Homo sapiens: one gene and its partners. The protein of the gene in region 2 interacts with the protein of the main gene of each other region in a pairwise test. Each region holds a gene or a part of one and is shown on either strand. Other genes may lie near its edges.

Region 1 (7,031 bases), on a different chromosome or scaffold from region 2:
GTCATAGAAAGACAGCATATTGTTGTCATAATCCAGGAGGACACCCAGACGCTTCAGGTGTGGGGGCACATCCACCAGCATTTCCTTGTTGTTGTGTCTCACCACGAAGTTACTATTGCAGCGAGAGAAGACCCATGAGGAGGCATTCTTGCCAATCCATTCATTCTTTGGAGCTGATTTGTAGGCAATGCCAATTGCATACCTGTGAGACAGTGGAAAGGAGAGAGAAATAAACATTTATGAATTATCTGAGTTGTGTAAGACACCATATATGATATATAACAAATAGGATATATGTTTATTCCTTAAATAGTTTACACTTAGATGCATAATGCTGATATCACTAGAGCTTTAAAAAGTTAGCAATTAGAGCAATGTGGCAGTTTCCATCTCCTAGCCCAGTATATTTTCCATTATTTTATTAAAAAGCTGGCAAATTTTTCTAGGAGTGGTTTTCATCACATACCTTTTAACCTTGACTTATTGGTATTATGGTTGTGCTATAGAATTGAATCTCCTAGGAACCTAATGACAGAGGACAGAAAAGAAAAGGAAAATGGGATCCACTCACCATGTTGAGGAACCCATGACCACCTCCCAATAGTGGCAGCCACTGTCAATGAATATATTTCCTGCTGCCCCATAGCACCCTGTGCCACTAAACCTCTCTGGGGTGTGGCTCTTCTTTAGAGAGCTTTCATCCTTCTCCATCTGCAATCCATCATTGGAGATCTTCAACTTCTTGTGAGTCATTTTGGGATCCAATTTAAAGGGTTGGCCTGAAAAATAAGTAGAAAAAAAAAAAAGAAAAAGCACTATGAAGTATCTTAAAATTCTACCTTTTCCACCAGCATCATCACTGGCAGGGTATGCTCGATAACATGATCACTCTTGGTCCAGTGCAAGTTGGCTGCTGTTTAAATTTTATTAAGAAAACAGGCCAGAAACCAGAGTTTTCAATAAAATAAGAATAAAGGCCAATCTCCCATAAAACGACCTTCATAACGGCGTTTATTTTCCCACTGTGGGAAAAAATGTGGATCTCTCCTAAAAGCAATTTGAGGGAAGTCATATTCCAAGCAAAGAGGAGCTAATAAGCTGTCCCCCACATCATATATTATCAAAGTAAAAGGGAGTGCTCAAAGTTTCATGTTCTCAAATATGTTTTGTACTTTGCTTAATTTCAGTGGGTTGTTTGGGATTTGGGTAGATTTTAACAGAAAGAGTGTTATGATGTCTGAGGTGAGGGGAATTGATGTAATTGCTGCTTGATGGCAGAACCGGAAAACCCTGAGAACTCAGCAACTGAACAATTATTTTTGCCCTCTTACAATTGGGATGTAAATAACATATAATTAGGCAATTTTGTTAGAGTGACTGTTGCATCATCAATGATCAGAGAAAACATTTATTGTGTAGGATCATTCACAACAGATAATTCTTTATAACCATATGACAAAGGCATTGTTACTGAGGGACCAGTTGCTGGGTGTGGCAAGAGATTTTTATACAGAATGCTTCTGTGACAGACACTGTTGGCTAACACATTACCCTTTCCCAACTTTTTCTCTCTTACTCACTTTCACTATAGAGGCCGGAAAAGCTAAATACTCAATCTTCCAGCCTCCCTTACTGCTAGGGGCGGCTAAGAACATGGAAGCAGATGGAAGCAGAAGTCAGACAGAGCAGGGGAAAGTTCTAGGAAAGTTTTGGATTTCCAGATAAAAGGGATAACCATTATGTGTACCAACTCTTTCCTCTTTCCTATCTTGAGAGGTAATATGACATCTGAAAGTTGCAGTGGCCATCTTGCAGCCATGTGGCAAGAAGCCAATGCACACAGGGAGAAGGAGCCTGCATCTTTTATGACATCGCAGAGCAGCTGCATTAGCCCTGAACTGCCTACCTTCAAACTTCTTCCTATGTGTATGTGTGAGAGATAAAATATATACTATTCATTTAAACAATTAACAAACGCTATTTGTTAAGCTATGTTAGTTGCACTTTTTGTTATTTGCTGTCAAAAGCATTCCTAACAGATATGGCTTCTCTGTAGTAAGATTTTACTAGATTATCACAAATAATGCTCTTTTATGCAATTGTCCCCCAAATATAAGGGGTGGAGTACAGAGAAAACTCTTCACTAACATCCTCCCAAGCTAACAGTCTTTTTGTGCATATCTCTGAGTCCACAAATCTCCCATGGGCACCAACAAACTCCTTGCCCAAAGTACAAACTACAACAGTATAGCTCCTCTACCCAGTACCACTGCTCCCCATGCACTGCTGTGAGTGCCTGCTCAGGCTGTGTACTCCCCTGGCATGGAGAAGAAAATTGATCTTTCCTTTTGAAATCACCACAACGTACTGTTTGTTTTTAGTCGGGTAGGTTCACTGTTCCGGCTGCCGGCTTGGTTTATGGCTTTAACGATGAAGATGTAGCGAGTCCCGCTCTGGAGTCCATGCACTGTGTAATGGTTCTGTTTAATGTTGGGAACAATCATCCAGCTGTCTACTGAATTATACAGGCCTGTAACATGGGGAAAGACAAGGACATTAACCAGCAGGTAAGAGAGACAGAATGAAAAACACACTGAAAATTCATCATAAGCCACCCCCTCAAAAGTGAATTCATTTTGTTTTCTTTTGAGTCTTAGAAGATGTAATGAGATGAACCAGGGCTTATGATTCCACTATTTCATTACTCCCATAGAACTAGGCTTAGGCCAGGCTCCTTGCTTGTGGCAATTGAATGGAACTACTAGCATAAGTTAGGTTATTTCAATTTCTTTCCCAGATAACACAGGAATGGCTACTATACAGAGTCACGGAATCATCACTCTTATGGAGTCTCTGGATATTTACTCCAAACGTCCACTCCTCTGAGAGCTGAGTTTGGTCTTGTATGGATGGAGCAATCCTGTGCAGAGCAGGGAAACATGGAAACTCAGCCAAAGGGACACATAGATACTGTATTTCCCTTATTTTACAAATGGGAAACTAGGATTGAGAGAAGAAAAGTGACCTGCCCAAGGCCACAGATAGTCAGTGATGGTGCTGAGAATAGAACCCTGGTATTTTTAAAATGGTAGCCCAGTGTTCTCTCTACTACATCACAGTTCATGGGGTGAACAACAATGTTCTTTTGTCTCTGCAAGGTAGTGAGGCTCTCAGGGCTTACAATTCCACTCTCCTACTCCATCCTTACCCTTACTTCCCAAACTAGCCGGTCTCCACAGTACCGTAGGGAAGCCAAAGAGATGACATGATAACCAAAGCAAGATATCATCTCCCCACTATTACACAACACATTCTGTTGTGTGATTCCCATGTTCATTTTGGGTTGAGTGGTCCAGGAGCACATTGTTATCTGGAATCTTCCTCCCTTCCAAGTAGGGAAAGGGATCAGAGAACTAGGCTTCTGCTTTTGATATATTTTAGACTGCAAATATTAACTTAAACAGGGGAAATGTAAATAATTAAAACATGTATTTGGCAAGCTTTCGGTAAAAGAAAAACCAACATTCTAGTCTGCAGATTATTTAGACTTCTTTCTACTGTTATCTGCTTTTCAGTTAGTTTACCACTTTTTAGCCACAGTTCTACTAGAGGGTAGAAAGGGAAAGGCGAGGAATATAAGCAGTGAATTCAGTCATTTCTATGCAACTCTAGTACAAAATTTAGTGAGGTTGAAAATTGAAAATAATAAGTCATGAATGTTTTGCAAGAGATCTGATCAAAGGGCTTATAATTAATCTGAGAGGAAGTTGAAGAGCCTAAGTTAAAACTAGTAAAAGAAACGATGGAGGGCAAACAGATATGCAGGAGAAAGAGGAGGAAGAATTGGTGGAGGTGCCCAGTGATTCTAATGAAAAGACAATATGGATTAAAAGGGTAGGAGCAATGTTTGAGGCCTTGCCTATGTTACCAATACACAGTATGAATCACAAGCTGCACATAAGATTTTAATACAAAGAGGAAAACATATAATCTCCAGATACACACCCAACAATACAAAGACAAACTTCACAATGAAGTACTATGCAGCTGTGAAAAAAATGAGGAAAAGATCACTATGAACTGATATAGAGTGATTTCAAGGAAATATTGTCAATTGAAAAAAGCAAATTCCAAAAGTATATATGTATATGTAGTATATATGCAGTACACTACTTTTTTGAGAGAAAGAAAAATAAGAAAACATCCATATATTTGCTTGGATTTACAAAGCAACAACAATAAAAACAGGAAAGATAAATAAAAAATTCATGAAGTTGGTTATCCACAAGGGGTAGGGGGTGGAGGAACAGGATTAAAAGGATGTGGGAGGAAATGACATTTCTCTGAATGTACCTTTTTGTATAGCATCCTCTTTGGGAAACACATTGTTTTACAAATTCAAAAAAATAAAATTAAATGAATACAGATGGGAAAATTGGGGACTAAAGCTGAAGGCAAACTGAAACAAACCCAACTGCATTTCAGACGAACAGCATAATTACATCAATGTAGTGGGGGTGGGAGGAAAACCTCAAACAAATCCTGAAGTATTGTTAGCCAGTTTGTTTTTGTTGTGGCGTGGACAGAGCAATTCAGAAACTATTTTAGATGTATTATGGGATTGAGCAAATGAGTACATGTGTTGATGTTGGGAGCCAGGGTTCATACTGTGGAAGAAGGAACATACAAATACAGAATGGAGAAAGGCAGGAAGGAACCTGTGGGGATGGACTGGAATTTAAGGTATTGGTGTAAACTCATGATTTCTAAAATATATATATGTTTGTGTATGTGCACATAAATATGCACATATATAAAGTATGTATGCATGTGTTATTATATATGTGTGCATATGCTTACATGTATGGATATTTGTGTTTATATCTAGCATATCTAGCACTCAGGTCTTGGTCTCTAATATTGTCCCACTAAAAGAAACCAGGGTTTCTTGGAAAATAATGACTGATTTCAAGGCTGGGACAGAATAAGGTCAAAATGAGCCTAGAACATTTTGTTATGCCAGAAAGTAAGGAAGTGCTCAAGAAAATGATGGGGGAATATTATAAGGACCCAGAAATCACCTTGAAAGGCTCCCAATGGCTAAATCTTGACAATTTGAACACCAACACAAGTAAGGGCTGTAAATAATTATTAACAATTGAAAAAAGATAATTCATCAGCCCATACTGATATATAAACAAATGGGAGGAAATGGGGAGTGGAACTCTTGCTTATAGTAGAATGCCAAGTGCCAACTTGAAAATGTGGGAGGGAATACTCAACTGGAAAAATCATCATTTTGCAATCATCATATTAATGATTGATTCAGGCAAGTATCATCAACTGATAATAAAACAAGGGTGGGGGTAGGGATGAGATGGTTTGATGAAGCAGCAGGGTATTTTTATGGTTTTAAAACATACCACACAGATTCCTTATTAGTGGCAAAAGAAAAAGTAGCAACTACAGTGAATAAATCAGACGACATCTTGACTAGGTGATCAAAATTAGCATCATCAGTGAAGGGCAAGTGGACATCATGTGTCTCCAGATATTATACCCTAAGAAAGAACTGTACTGCTAAATATAATCATGAGAAAACTTCAGAAAAAATCAAAATAAGGAACAGTATAATGAAGTATAATAAAGACATAAAAGAACACTTTTTAAAAAATGTCAATGTTGTTCAAGACAAAGAAAGGCTGAAGAAATGTTCCAGATTAAAAGAGATATGGCAAAAGAGATACGACAATTAAATGTAATACCTGACCCTAAACTATAAAGGACAATATTGGGTTCTTTATATGTCATAAAGAATATTATTTGGTCAAATGTCAAAAATTGAAATATAAATGGTGGTTAGATAAAAGTATTGCATCAACGTTAAATTTCTTCAAGTTGGTAACTATACTGTGGTTATGTAAGAGAATTTCCTTATTCTTAGGAAATATACACTGAAGAATTCAGAGGTGAAAGACCATGATGTATGCAATTTGCTCTAAAATGGTTCCAAAAGAACAGGGAATGTTAGCAAATGCTAAAGGAAATGGGACAAATATTAACAGTAGGTGAATTTGGGTAAAGAATATATGGGTGTTCTTTGTGCTAGTCTTGGAAAGTTTTCTGTGATTTTGAAATCATTTCTAAATTTAAAAAGGTAAATATATGATCCTCTAGGTATTACTGAGATTTAGTAAGATGGGACTTATGATTGAATTATGTCAGTGGAAGTATACCTCTTGTTCAAAAGGGAAAAATTACAATATGGAAATCCCTGAACCTGAGTGTAAATGTGTGGTAGAGAGTATTTGCATGAGAATGAAAAGGAAGGGAAATAGAAGTTATGTCTTTCTGGTAGTATGTTATGGTCCGCCTGGCTAGGCAGAGTTTACGGCTAATGCTTTTGTAATGCAAAACACAAAATTCAAACGGAGGAAAGATAATAAAGTAATCAGAAGACAAACACACTCAAATATCTGTTGGAATTCTCATTCACCTCACAGCATAATCTGAAACATCATTGGTTGTGATCATTTCAAATCTTAGAAGAGGTGGGAAGAAAGTTAAAAATCAGGAAATAAAGTTGAAAGAAAAGGTGAAGGGGGAATAATCCTCACCAACAAGCATGAAATTTCTGGATAAAGAAAATGTGAAAAAACGTCAAAGGAAAGTAGCTCTCAGAACGGAGGTTCAGTCAACTGTGGCAGGCCAGACCGGCAGGTAGGATTGGGATCCTGAATCTTCAAAAATACTTATTCCTAGTAAAATAGTTTCTCATTGCCATCCAAAATTTTGCTTCAGGCCTCTGCCCTTGTCCTTGTTCTAACAAAATTTTCTATCAATAACTAGAGGAAGAAATAGAAGGCAGGCTGTGAGGGTAAGCAAGTATATTTGAAGGTAGAATCTGTATCCCAAAGGATTTTAGCATGCTGAAATGAAGTGGCAGAACTAACCAGATAAAATGTACTAGGGATAAATTCAAGGCTTTGTATTTTTGTTTTAGACATTCAATTGTATAAGAACAGGATTTG
Region 2 (4,304 bases):
GTTCAGAATGAACCACTTAAGATACTACATCTATGCAGAACACAGCATTCAGAAGTTTCTTCCCTAAAGTTTGGCTCATCTACGACCACAAAAAACCCAAGAGGTTCTTAAAAGTCAGGGGCTCTGGAATTACCTGCCCAGACAGAAGTCAGAAACTTGGGCCTAGAAATCCGCATTTTAAACTCATTCCCGAGGTGCTCTTCATGTATCTGGTCTACCGCTTTAGGGTGCCAAGCTAATGCTTTTTAGATTTGAGCAACCAGTGAAATTACAGAAAGAATCTTCAAGACTTACTTTGAGCTTTCAACTACTATCACACAAAGAACAATGACAAGCGATAATCATCTCCTTTCATCCTTGTTCCAAAAAATATTACGTATATTTGTCTTTGTTTGCTTGGAGAGCTGTGTATGTCACTGCGGTCCAACCTCTGGGAACCCCAAGGGGCTTTGGGCACCACTTCAGGGTGAATGATGGGCCCAAGAGACAAGGCTTACTAGAGAACACCATCATCTTCCATTATTTTATTATTTTTTATACATATATATATATGCGCAATCTGTTTTATGTACAACAATTGGTTCTATCAAATATTCAGACCAAGGCATTCTACTGGTAATTTCCCCCCAAATCAATTCAGGTAAAATTAGATACTTATGCACTTCACGGGCTATCAAAACTTGCAACTTCATTATCAATTTCAGTTCTGAGGTCATACACACAATTCAAAATATACATTAACTAGGTTAAGGCGATAAAAGTGGGCTGAAAGAAACCACAGGATTCAGAACAATGAAACTGTGTATTTTGCTTGCATGAGAGTCATAACGTGAACAGCAAGTATTGTGCGTATCTCATAGCTCTTCAGTGGAGAGGAAGCGGCTTCTGAACATCTAAGGTGACTGCACAGCAGGTGGGAAACAGCTGGTGTGGCCTGCTGGAGGCTTCGCCGAGGGAGGGCTCATTTCTTCTCTGCCTCTCCTTTTTTGGGTTCTTGTTTCAATTTGTAATCAGCCAGGGCGGCCTTGATTGCATCTTCAGCCAGCACTGGAAGTAACGGAAGGAAAGAAGCCTAAGTTTCTAGATGTGAAAGAAATGGACTTGGGAATAGAATCTTTAAGAGCTGGGAGGAAGTGGTGCTGGTGGGGACTAATGGAGTAACCAAGCCAGAAAGCTGGGGTGAGGAGTTGCTGGGCACGTCAGCAGCTGCTTCCTGAGCTGAGTTACTCCTGCGGGTGATCCTGGAGACAGACTAGGGTTAAAAATCTGTGATCCCAGGCTAGTTCCTTAGCCTCTTTGACCCTACTTTCTCTTCTATAGAACTGGGATAATCATGCTTTTCTTGCCAGGATAGTGTGGGGACTTACAGAAGATGTCTGACACATAGTAGGGACACAGGAAATGTTACTTCTTGCCTGCTCCCATCAAAGTCTAGCTTTGGACAAAATCTTGTCATGATAAAAAAGTTGACATGCCCTTTGGAAAAAAGATCATGTCAATCTGTTGATGGGATGGCATTTGCCACATCACCCTCTAGTGATCGAGAGTTTGACCACTTTTATTTAGGAGTCAATATTCAAAGTGAGGCTATGGGGAAAATAAAAACTGAGAGAGCTGGAATGACAGCAGAAAGCAAGCAAATAACAGAGAACATCAGCTAAAGGTTTCAGTACCTAAAAAGGCCTAATAAAAGGGCTGGGGATTTCCTGAAACCATGTGAAAATGTTTACAAGTGATGACCTTTCTTTATGGGTACTTAAAATTCCAGATCAAGTGGAAAGAACTTAGGTCTGACCAGGCTTCCTGAAGAATGAGTTAGTGTGTCTGCCCCGGCACCTGGCTCTTCTGCTGTGAGTATTACCTTGGCAAGAGGCCTGACTCTCTGCTGATTTTTAACTAATTTGGTTAGTAAACCTCCATCGATGCATTAAGGCTAATGTTTCTCATTCCTTCTTTCCCTGAGAAGGTTAAGAAATGATGGAAAAAGCATTAGATTTAATACAGAGACCAAACTGGAAAGCCAAGTACAAGTCTTAAGGCATCTGGGCTTTTTTTTAGGATAGCAGGGAGGGGGACATTGTACAACTGGGCTTAGTTGTTCCATATATACAGATGCAGACCCCGACAGGAATACCATCCAGACAGGAAGTGAAGAAATACACAGGAAACAGGATTATGGCGAAAGCTGAGTTTTCTCCTCTGCTGGAAACAGCACAGATTCTGAAATCAAAGATTGGAGCTTAAATTCTGGCTCTTCCACTTATTAGCCATGTGATGTGGGCGTCTCAACCCAAGCCTTAGCTTCCTCATCCATAAGAGGGAAGTAATGACATCTACTGTGCACTCAAGGATATTTGTGAGGTTTAGAAATTACGCCCATGAAGTGCTCAGTATGATGGCTGGTGCATACCTCCTTCTGGCATGATTCTCTTAGGGATGAATGTGAGACCATGGGGGCTCTAACCCTCTGCAGGTTATAAGGACAGACTCATGAGCTCTAATTCTGAGGGTTACAAACGTGGGCTCCATGATCTAAAAGGACTGTTGCAAACCAAGTTGAAATTACTGCCAAATGTCCCAGCTGACTGGTATGGAGAGCAGAGACTTACTGGAGCAGTGCAGTTTCACGGGAGGAAGGCAGAGCTCCTTGGCGATATCTGTGTTTTTGATAGTCAAGGCTTCCTCCACCTGAGAGGCATAATGGAAAGATGGGCAGTTTTAGCAACACTTTATCTTGTGAGGGCCAGCCAATAAAAAAGGGAGGCCAAAGAGGCTCTCAGGGTTGGTGGGGATGATTTCTGTTTAATAACTCAAACGGCTAAGGGTCTTCTCAGGACTCCCACTTTATCAAAGCTGCAGCTGGGATTCTCAAGCATGAAGTATACACAGCTGCACTGCCTGGCTTGGGTAAGCAAAGACAGCCCAGACACTTCTCTAAGTCAGGAGTGGAACCTGTGAGAAGTCTCTTAGGGATCTGCTTGTGGCCTGTAACAGGAATCTCTTCCTTAAAAGGTAGTGATTTCCTATGCTGGTTTTGTGAATATCAGCTTCTCCGATGTCCTCATACCAAATGTTAGCCTAAATCCTTTTGACTAGAAGTGCCGAATGGCATCAGAGAGGTTGGGAAGATTTCAGGTAAGTAGCACAGTGGCAGTGGCACAGCCGAGTCAGGCCGAATGCTCTCTTTGGTGTCCCCTTTGCCTATAGGAGCATCTCCTCCAGATCAACTAAAGAGGATGCCTGGGGTCTGGTTGACAGCCCTGGGGGATAATGTGAGGCAGGCAGATCCTTGCCCATGTAGAACAGTGCCCCACTGCCTTACAGAAAACCAGATTTCCCAACAGCCAGACTCTTTGACTATGTCTATCATTCAGTTTCCCAATTCTGCTAACCCTTCTTGGTTGATTCAGGTTCTGCTCCTGAAACTCAGATGGGAGATCTCAAGGTTAAAGAAATGTCCTCTCTCCCATTTTCTGATCACAATTCACAGTCCCCTAAGGGCCAGGTTCTGGGAGCAAAAGTGCCTTGTCTCATTTCTCCCTTCACCTGAGGACAGTTCCTGACAAATCACTTCAGAGCTACCTCCTGCCACAGCAGGTTAGGTCTGAGCTTCCTGGCCCACAGGGGCTTGCCAGCCAGAAGGCCGTGAGCCACAGGAAGCAGGTGGCACGTGGCCTGGCAAACTGCTCTGCTGTGGAGCTGGCCAGCTTCCAAGCATGCTCCTCTGTGACTCAGCTCCCTGAACCTGGTCCCTTGGGGCAGCAAAGATGAGTGCCTTGCTGGTTGGCTTTTCTGAGAGGTTTTGACAGCAACTGGATTTTAGAAAGTCCAGCTCTTCACTGTGTTTGGGACCTTTGACCTCTGCAGCTACCAGGGAAAGACACTTGGGAGACAAAGGGATGAAAAAGAAGTTCTAGCTCTTTATTATCTCTGCCTTTAGAGGGCTTGCGATCAGCCACCTGGATCACTGTTCTGATTTCGTTGTTCACTTTGCCCCCACCCTTGCTGTCTTTTTGATTATTTAATCCCTCTTTTAACACAGGCTAGTTTATTTCACCAATTCTTGAAAGCCACCTAGAACCCTTCCTGAAACATGAGAGGAAATAAACAAGAAAATAACTACCTTATAACAACTCTCTGACTTGAGAAATTATAAGAGCACTGGTAACCTTAGAGAAAGCCAAAGATTTCTTTTAAATTCTATTTTGTTAGAGGGACAGGTGAGGATCTTTTTTATATGTAATTAACACCCAAACAAACAAAAAAATAAAAATGATCAACAAGAAAAAAACCCAAACAACACC
Region 3 (7,447 bases), on a different chromosome or scaffold from region 2:
TCCAACCTTTTAGCCATTATAACCAGTGGTGAAAACGCAAACATAAAACGCAACAGTGCAAAAAGATAATTCCATTTCACAATGAGATCCAAGGAACAAAAGAAGTTGTTGCTCTAATCATACAATGAGACTATATGATTTTTTTCCCCTTGTTACCTGCCCAGCAATTTATACTACAAATCCAAAAGGAAAGAGGGCCCCTTGAAAGCATTTTTACGTTAATCTAAAGACTAATGAGTATTCAAGGCAGAAAGTACATTCCTAGGAAATCTTGGATAGTATGAATTTCATAGTTTATAATTTAAGCAAGGTAAGCAACAACTGAACTGAGAAGGGTGAATTCTGAATGGTGCTGAAGGCTGGTTGTTGTTCCTCCAGTAAAGTGTCCTTAGGGTGCAGGCTTGGAGTTGGATGGAGTGGATAAAGATTTGGAGGCCAGAGAAGAAGGTGGGGAAATAGAGAGGAAGAAAGCAAAAAGGACTGTATGAAGATAAGCCTGAGTAAAATACAAGGTGCAGGCTTGCTGAAAAGTGTGATTGGTGATGCTTGAAATCCAAGCTCTATCACTTACAAGCTGTGTATTCTTCTGCAAATTATTAGCTTTTCGGATTCTATTTCTTCCTTTGTAAAGGGTGGGTAGTATTAATATCTGCCTCATAAGATAACCCGGGGGAGGGGGGGTCAAGTTTCTAGCATAGCCCAGAAAAAAATTTTTGCTCTACAAGATTGGCAACCTTATCAGTCTTTGTATTATTCTGATTTGTAAATAGGTATCCTAGCCCTGCCAGCCTAAGGAACAAGATGCACATTTTTTAAATTTTTTTTTTTTTTTTGAGACTGAGTTTCGCTCTTGTCGCCCAGGATGGAGTGCAATGGTGCGATTTCAGCTCACTGCACCCTCCACCTCCCAGGTTCAAGCAATTCTCCTGCCTCAGCCTCCTGTGTAGCTAGGATTATAGGCGCCCACCACCACGCCCAGCTAATTTTTTTTTTATTTTTTTAGTAGAGACGGGGTTTCACCATGTTGGCCGGGCTGGTCTTGAACTCCTGACCTCAGGTGATCCACCCACCTTGGCCTCCCAAAGTGCTGGAATTACAGGCATGAGCCACTGCACCTGGCAAGATACACACTTTTAAGTAGGTAGTTCTTGTCCTAAAGGAGTTCATAGTCCAGATGAAGAAATAAGGCAACACAAACAATAGTTAATATACTACAGTCAAATACTTACAGGCAGAATTGTGGTTCAGTGGTCAGACTATAAGCATAAAAAGAATTCAGAACCTGAACCTGAATGTTACCCACAGGTAACACACCAAGCTCATTACTGAATTCTTTTGAGGTGGCTTTTGTGGGTATACATGTACATTCCCACAAGGAAGGGGAGGCCTTGGGGCTCTTCTATTTTCTGTTGCCCTCAGGAGGCCCTGCAAAGACCTTGCCTGGAATTACAAAAATGACCTATGAAATTAGCCTTTTCTACAATGCATTCTTAGAAGAGGGGCTTGGAACTCTCTCGTTAGTGGGGCTCTCACAATTTAATTGTTTGCTCAGCAACTATAAAAGGAACAGGTAAACAAGCTCATTATCAATCATCAATTTAATACTGAGAGGATGTCAGCTTGAGGCTCTGGTAGGCTGTCTTCTTCCTCTATCTCCCCTTTTCAGAAAGGCTGATGCAGACAGAGTGGATCCAAGTTCACACACAGCATGCTGGATAGAACCAGGATTGGAACATGGGCAATATGTACTGTGTTATGCAGCCATAGCAGGCACTTAAGATGAAAGATGTCCTCATTTAAGTGCAAGAGAGGAAGAGGAACTAAAATTTCTTGGACACCAACCATGTCCCAAGATCTATGCTAAGGAGTTTTTCTGGTACCATGTTAAAAAACTGCCTCAGGTCTGCTTCTTGGGAATGTGATATTTTGAGCAAGCCAAAAATTTTCTTTCTGGGGGCCTCAAGTTTTCAAAGCTCCAAAAAGGAGGGTAAGGATTCTTGCTTGCCCACCTTAAAGGGGTTGTTGAGAATCCCAGAAGAGGAACAGACTTAGAAAGGATTTGCAAATCCTTAGTCCCTTATGTATACAAAAGCAATTTCCCTTCCCCTTCTAAATGTTCCCACTTAGAAGGCAGGTCAGAAATGTGTTGTTTCTTGGCCATACAAGGGGCGTGGGAAAATCTGTTACTGCACACGGCATAGTAATAAACAAGAACAGCGCCAAGCCCTCTACCTGTCATTCCATGTCAACTCTATGAGGTCCGTATTATTATATGACCTTTAGAGTCAGAAACACTGAGAGGATACTAGTGAAACTGTGGTGACACTGCTTTAAGGAACCCAGTCTTTCCTGCAACCCCCACCACCCACCTCCGGGATCCTTCGAGGTAGGGGGCTGGGTGCATTTCCCTCCATCTCTCCCTTCCCCTGCCCTGTCCCCAACAATTCACATGTCCTTTCCTCACCCATCCCGGTCCTCAACCTCGCACCCTTGAGGAATTACCTCGCTTCCCAATTCCCATCCTTCACACCCCGCAGGTCTCCCTTTTCTACAGAGGCGATAGTTTGGTGGCAGAAAAAGGGCTTGGAACTCCAATGTCTGGATTCAAATTCTGGTTCCAGCAGTCATTCGCTTGCCATGTGACCTTGAGCAATTCAAGTCCCCTTTCTGAACGTCCCCCCCCCCCGCACCCTTAGCTGTAAAAAATTGCCCGTGCCCTAACTCACAAGCTGCTGCGAGGCGCAGAAAGATAACTTGACAGGGATGCTCGAAGCCAAACCAAAGCACTGCACCAGGGGGAGGAGGTCCTCCATCTCCCTGAGGCCTTGCCCTATGCTTCCTCAGTCTCTCCGCAGCCCCATCAGCTCCAGGCAGTCTCTGTGGCTTTCCTGACTTTTCCCTCTCTGAGGCTCCAGGACTCACCTGCAGGCAGGCTCCGCCAAGGGTTGTGGCCGGCAACCGGCGCCTCAAGGAGAGGGCGACCACCGCCGCCATCTTGGCTCCTGACGTCAGCCCCACCCCTTAACCCCGAGGTCGCTCTCCGCCGGTGTCCCGTCGAACATCGCGGCGCCCAGCCTACATCCACTGAGGACCCACTAGCCGCGTACGAGCAACCAAGTGGGAGGCGGCTTCCGGTTTCCCGGGTGGGCGGAGGGAAGGCGGGGCAAGCACAGCGAGCGTGCGCAATAGCGCAGTAGCGGCGCATGCCCATTTGGCTTCCCCCGTGACCTTCTCAGAAAGGGGAGGAGTCTGAGAGGCAGGGCGACTTTCAGGGGGTGGGGCTAAGACTTAGATGGGGCGGAGCCATCCTATCCGGGTCCCTGCCCCGATTTCAACCTCTTTATTCCTGGAATTTTTGTTTGTTTGTTTGAGATGGAGTCTCGCACTGTTTCCCGGGCTGGAGTGCAATGGCGCGATCTTGGCTCACTGCAACCTCCGCCTCCCGGGTTCACGCGATTCTCCTGCCTCAGCCTCCCGAGTAGCTGGGATTACAGGCGCACACCATCACACCCGGCTAATTTTTTGTATTTTTAGTAGAGACGGGGTTTCATCATCTTGGCCAGACTGGTCTTGAACTCCTGACCTCGTGATCCGCCCACCTTGGCCTCCCAAAGTGCTGGAATTACAGGCATGAGCCACTGCGCCCGGCCAATTTTTTTTTTTTTTTTCAGACAGGGTCTCACTCTGTTGCCCAGGCCGGTGTGCAGTCTTGGCTCACTGCAGCCTCGACTTCCCAGGCTCAAGCGATCCTCCCACCTCCAGAGTAGCTGGGACTACAGGCGTGTGAGCCACCATACCCGGGTAGTTTTTTTTTTTTTCTTTTTTTTGAGATGGAGTATCGCTCTGTCTCCCAGGCTGGAGTGCAGTGGCGCGATCTCGGCTGACTGCAACCTCCGCCTCCCGGGTTCAAGCAATTCCCTGCCTCAGCCTCCCGAGTAGCTGGGATTATAGGCGTCCGCCATCATGCCCGGCTAATTTTTTTGTGTTTTTAGTAGAGATGGGGTTTCACCATCTTGGCCAGGCTGGTCTTGAACTCCTGACCTCGTGAGCCACCCACCTCGGCCTCCCAAAGTACTGGAATTACAGGCATGAGCCACCGCGCCCGGCCACCCGGATAATTTTTTTAAAAAATTATTTGTAGAGATGGAGTCTGGCTATGTTGCCCAGGCTGGGCTCAAGCAATCATCCTGCTCCAACTTCCCAAAGTGCTGGGATTACAGGCGTGAGCCACCACACCTAGCCTCCCTAAGAATTTGTCAGTCTTATTATTCATCTCTGACGCTTACTGGCTTGAGTCAGCCCTTTCTGTCGCATACCGTGCAGCTTGCCCGAGGCTGCCCAGGTTTCTGCACTGAGAGTCCCAAACAAACTGGGCAGTTGGTGAATGAGCTGAGGTGATTTCAAGGGTGGCTGGCAAAGGTGCCATTCTTTTGTTCGTTCATTCATTCATTCATAAATACGAATGGAGTGGCTACTATGTGGCAGGCACCAAGTGCTGGGATGCTGCAGGGAATGAGCAAGCCAGGTGGTCACTGCTCATTGAATTTACTCTCTAGTGGTGGAGACGGCAAGTGAGCAGACAGCTAGACACTGTGAGCTCTGTTCTGTACGAGAGGGTGTGCCCAGAGAAGGACACCCAGTCCTTGGTGGCTTTGTTAGCCATTTAATATAAGAAACCATTTCTACTCTGTGCCAAACATTATGGTCCATTATCCCACTTAATCCCCACAGCAGTTCTGTGAAGAAAGTTTTTTGGTTTTGTTTTTTACTGAGTTTCCATTTTAGACATCTCAGCTTCTTTTTCCAGCCCCCTCCATGGATCTGCTCAGAGCTGGCCTCACTCTTGGGACTTACCTTGGGCAGGAGTGGCCTGGAGCCTCCAAGGCACCTGCCTCTTCAGTCACTCCACGCGTTTGTGTAGATTGTTAACCTTGCAGGTCCCGGGGTTTCGTAGGAGTGATTTTTTTTTCCCCTTTCTGTCTGCTTGTTTTGGACATGTGAAGGGCGCCTTTCTATAGTCTTTGGTTTCCACTCTCACAGCTGATGTGGATGCTACTGGAGACATTGAGATGGCCAGGTCAATTGGCTGGATGGGCTGTTTCTGGAGTCCTTGACTGGAACCCCGCTATACCGCCAGTGTGGCCTCATTAAAGGGGGTGTGTAGTGAGGCCTGAACCTCTAGGTCTAACCTGGAATATTCTCTTCAAGGCCATGTGACCTTGGATAAGCCCCTCCCCATCTTTGACCTATAGTTTCCTTGCCTGAACCATTAGGGTGTTGGGCCCTCTGATTTAAGATTCTGTGATTCACGTGGCTGTCTTGTGGATAACTGGTAACAATGCTGAGGTCACCTTGACTTTCACTGGTGCTGACCCAGGACTGGAACAGGGCCCCTCTGGTCTGCCCCATGGGGCCTCTTGGGTCACCCAAACTGGCTGAGATATGGGAAGACTGCCGCTCTGTCTCTAACTCCTAACTGAATTGTCGTCTGAGCTGAAGAAAGCTCTTCCTGAAAGGAATGTATTTCTAGAGAATTGGTCCTCTTAGCATTTTCAGGGTTCTTTCATCTCAAAGGCAGATGCCACCCCTAGATAAGCAACTACCCTTTCAGTTTGCCCAGGTCACCTTGGAAAAAGCAGTCTGAGGCCAGCATAAGTGAGACCTTGATTTATGGAGGGGCTGTTGGTGCCAATGGGCCCACATGCCCTGCAGTCACATCATTCCTGGGCTTCGTGGGGATTTGGGGAGCTCAAAGTTATGGAGGAATAAATTCCTGGGCGGCTGTACCTCCGCCCTGGACTTTGGGATGCCAGAAAGTCACAGCTGCAGAAGGACTTAGAAATTTTCATGGCCTGATCCTGACATATTTTCCAAAGATGTCCTCATGATAAGACCCTAGGTTTTTTTGGTTTATTTCCATTCGTCTAGAGAGTGACATATTGCTTTTCACCAGACAGTCTGCTAGACACTATGTTTATACTGAACTTTATCACTTGCAAAGGTGTTTACATAAACAGTCTCATTTAGTCCTCATAACCACACTTTTGGGTTGGAAAAGCTGCTCCTGTTTTCCAGACTCTCTCAGTCTTTGGACAGCAGGAAAACTGAGCAGCCTTAGGTGAGCGTTTTGCTTTAGGAGGTCTTTCTCCCCTAAGAGCTGGAAATCATGTCCAGAATTGAAAATTAAAACCAGCTGGGCAAAGTGGCTCATACCTGTAATCCCAGAACTTTGGGAGGCTGAAGTGGGAGGATCGATCCCTTGAGCCCAGGAGTTCGAGACCAGCCTGGGCAACATGGTGAGACCCTGTCTCTACAAAAAAATTTAAAATCCGCCAAGCATGGTGGTGCAAACCTGTAGTACCAGCTACTTGGGAGGCTGAAGTGGGAGGATTGCTTGAGTGCAGGAGGTCGAGGCTGCAGTGAGCTGTGATCACACCACTGCAACTCCAGCCTGGGCAACAGAGCAAGAACCTGTCTCAAAAAAATGAAAATAACAAAATAAAAAAGCATTATGTTGTATCAACTGTCATTTGTACAATCAATTGTAGTCTGGTGTCTTGTAATTTAGGGCAACCTGGATGATTTCTGCCAGCCAGAGGGTGAAGGAGGGTTGGATTTAGGAGGAAATATCAGATGTTGCCTGGGAGATTCATTTGCCTCTGGGAAAAACCCACAGCAACAGATTGCTGTGGTGGAGCTCTGGGGCCTTCTCATCTAAAATTTAGGATTTTTTTTTTCTTTTGAGATGGAGCCTCACTCTGTTGCCCAGTCTGGAGAGCAGTGGCACGATCTCGGCTCACTGCAAGCTCTTCCTCCCGGGTTCACGCCATTCTCCTGCCTCAGCCTCCCGAGTAGCTGGGACTACAGGCACCTGTCACCACGCACGGCTAATTTTTTGTATTTTGTTTAGTAGAGATGGGGTTTCACTGTATTAGCCAGGACAGTCTCGATCTCCTGACCTCGTGATCCACCCGCCTCGGACTCCCAAAGTGCTGAGATTACAGGCATGAGCCACTGCGCCCAGCCAAAATTTAGGATTTTATTTGCCTTTGGCCAGTGGGCTTCGTCCTTTCCGTCTCCCTGGCTGTCTCCTGAGCATCTCCATCTGGGCGTCCCAATGGTCCTTTAAACCCAACCTATCCCAAACGGTACATCTCACCTGAGGAGTTTATACTTGTCTTATTAGCACCACCATCTACCGGATATCCAAGCCAGAAACTCGATGTCATCTTGATTCTTCTCCCCACCCCATATCCAATCAACCATCAACTCCCACCATAGCTCCAAGGCTCCCCGGCTCCCCCGCGGGCCCTTCCAGTTACTTCTGTCCCTGTAATACAGCCTGCTCTATTCCCCGCCTCATTTCACACCTCCAAGCCTTTGCGTACGTCCGTGTCTTGGATCTGGAGTGTCCTTTCCTCCTCCTTCATGTGGTTGACTTGTCATC

The links. Proteins that work in one complex are often made in the same cells at the same time.
Region 1: the proteins of ISCU (region 2) and MID2 interact in binary tests that used the Homo sapiens proteins (3 or more experiments, as listed by UniProt).
Region 3: the proteins of ISCU (region 2) and SDHB interact in binary tests that used the Homo sapiens proteins (3 or more experiments, as listed by UniProt).

The regions. Positions count from the first base shown.
Region 1 is NC_000023.11:107,919,842-107,926,872, reverse strand, and holds part of MID2 (probable E3 ubiquitin-protein ligase MID2), read right to left. Parts: intron 2,531-7,031; coding exon 2,369-2,530; intron 780-2,368; coding exon 572-779; intron 203-571; coding exon 1-202. UniProt on the Homo sapiens protein: E3 ubiquitin ligase that plays a role in microtubule stabilization. Mediates the 'Lys-48'-linked polyubiquitination of LRRK2 to drive its localization to microtubules and its proteasomal degradation in neurons.
Region 2 is NC_000012.12:108,565,574-108,569,877, reverse strand, and holds the end of ISCU (iron-sulfur cluster assembly enzyme ISCU isoform 2 precursor), read right to left. Parts: intron 2,689-4,304; coding exon 2,610-2,688; intron 2,221-2,609; coding exon of another isoform or gene 2,174-2,220; exon of another isoform or gene 1,959-2,173; coding exon of another isoform or gene 1,906-1,958; exon of another isoform or gene 1,048-1,905; coding exon 962-1,047; 3' UTR 510-961; downstream 1-509.
Region 3 is NC_000001.11:17,051,026-17,058,472, forward strand, and holds the start of SDHB (succinate dehydrogenase [ubiquinone] iron-sulfur subunit, mitochondrial isoform 1 precursor), read right to left. Parts: upstream 3,008-7,447; 5' UTR 2,995-3,007; coding exon 2,923-2,994; intron 1-2,922. UniProt on the Homo sapiens protein: Iron-sulfur protein (IP) subunit of the succinate dehydrogenase complex (mitochondrial respiratory chain complex II), responsible for transferring electrons from succinate to ubiquinone (coenzyme Q).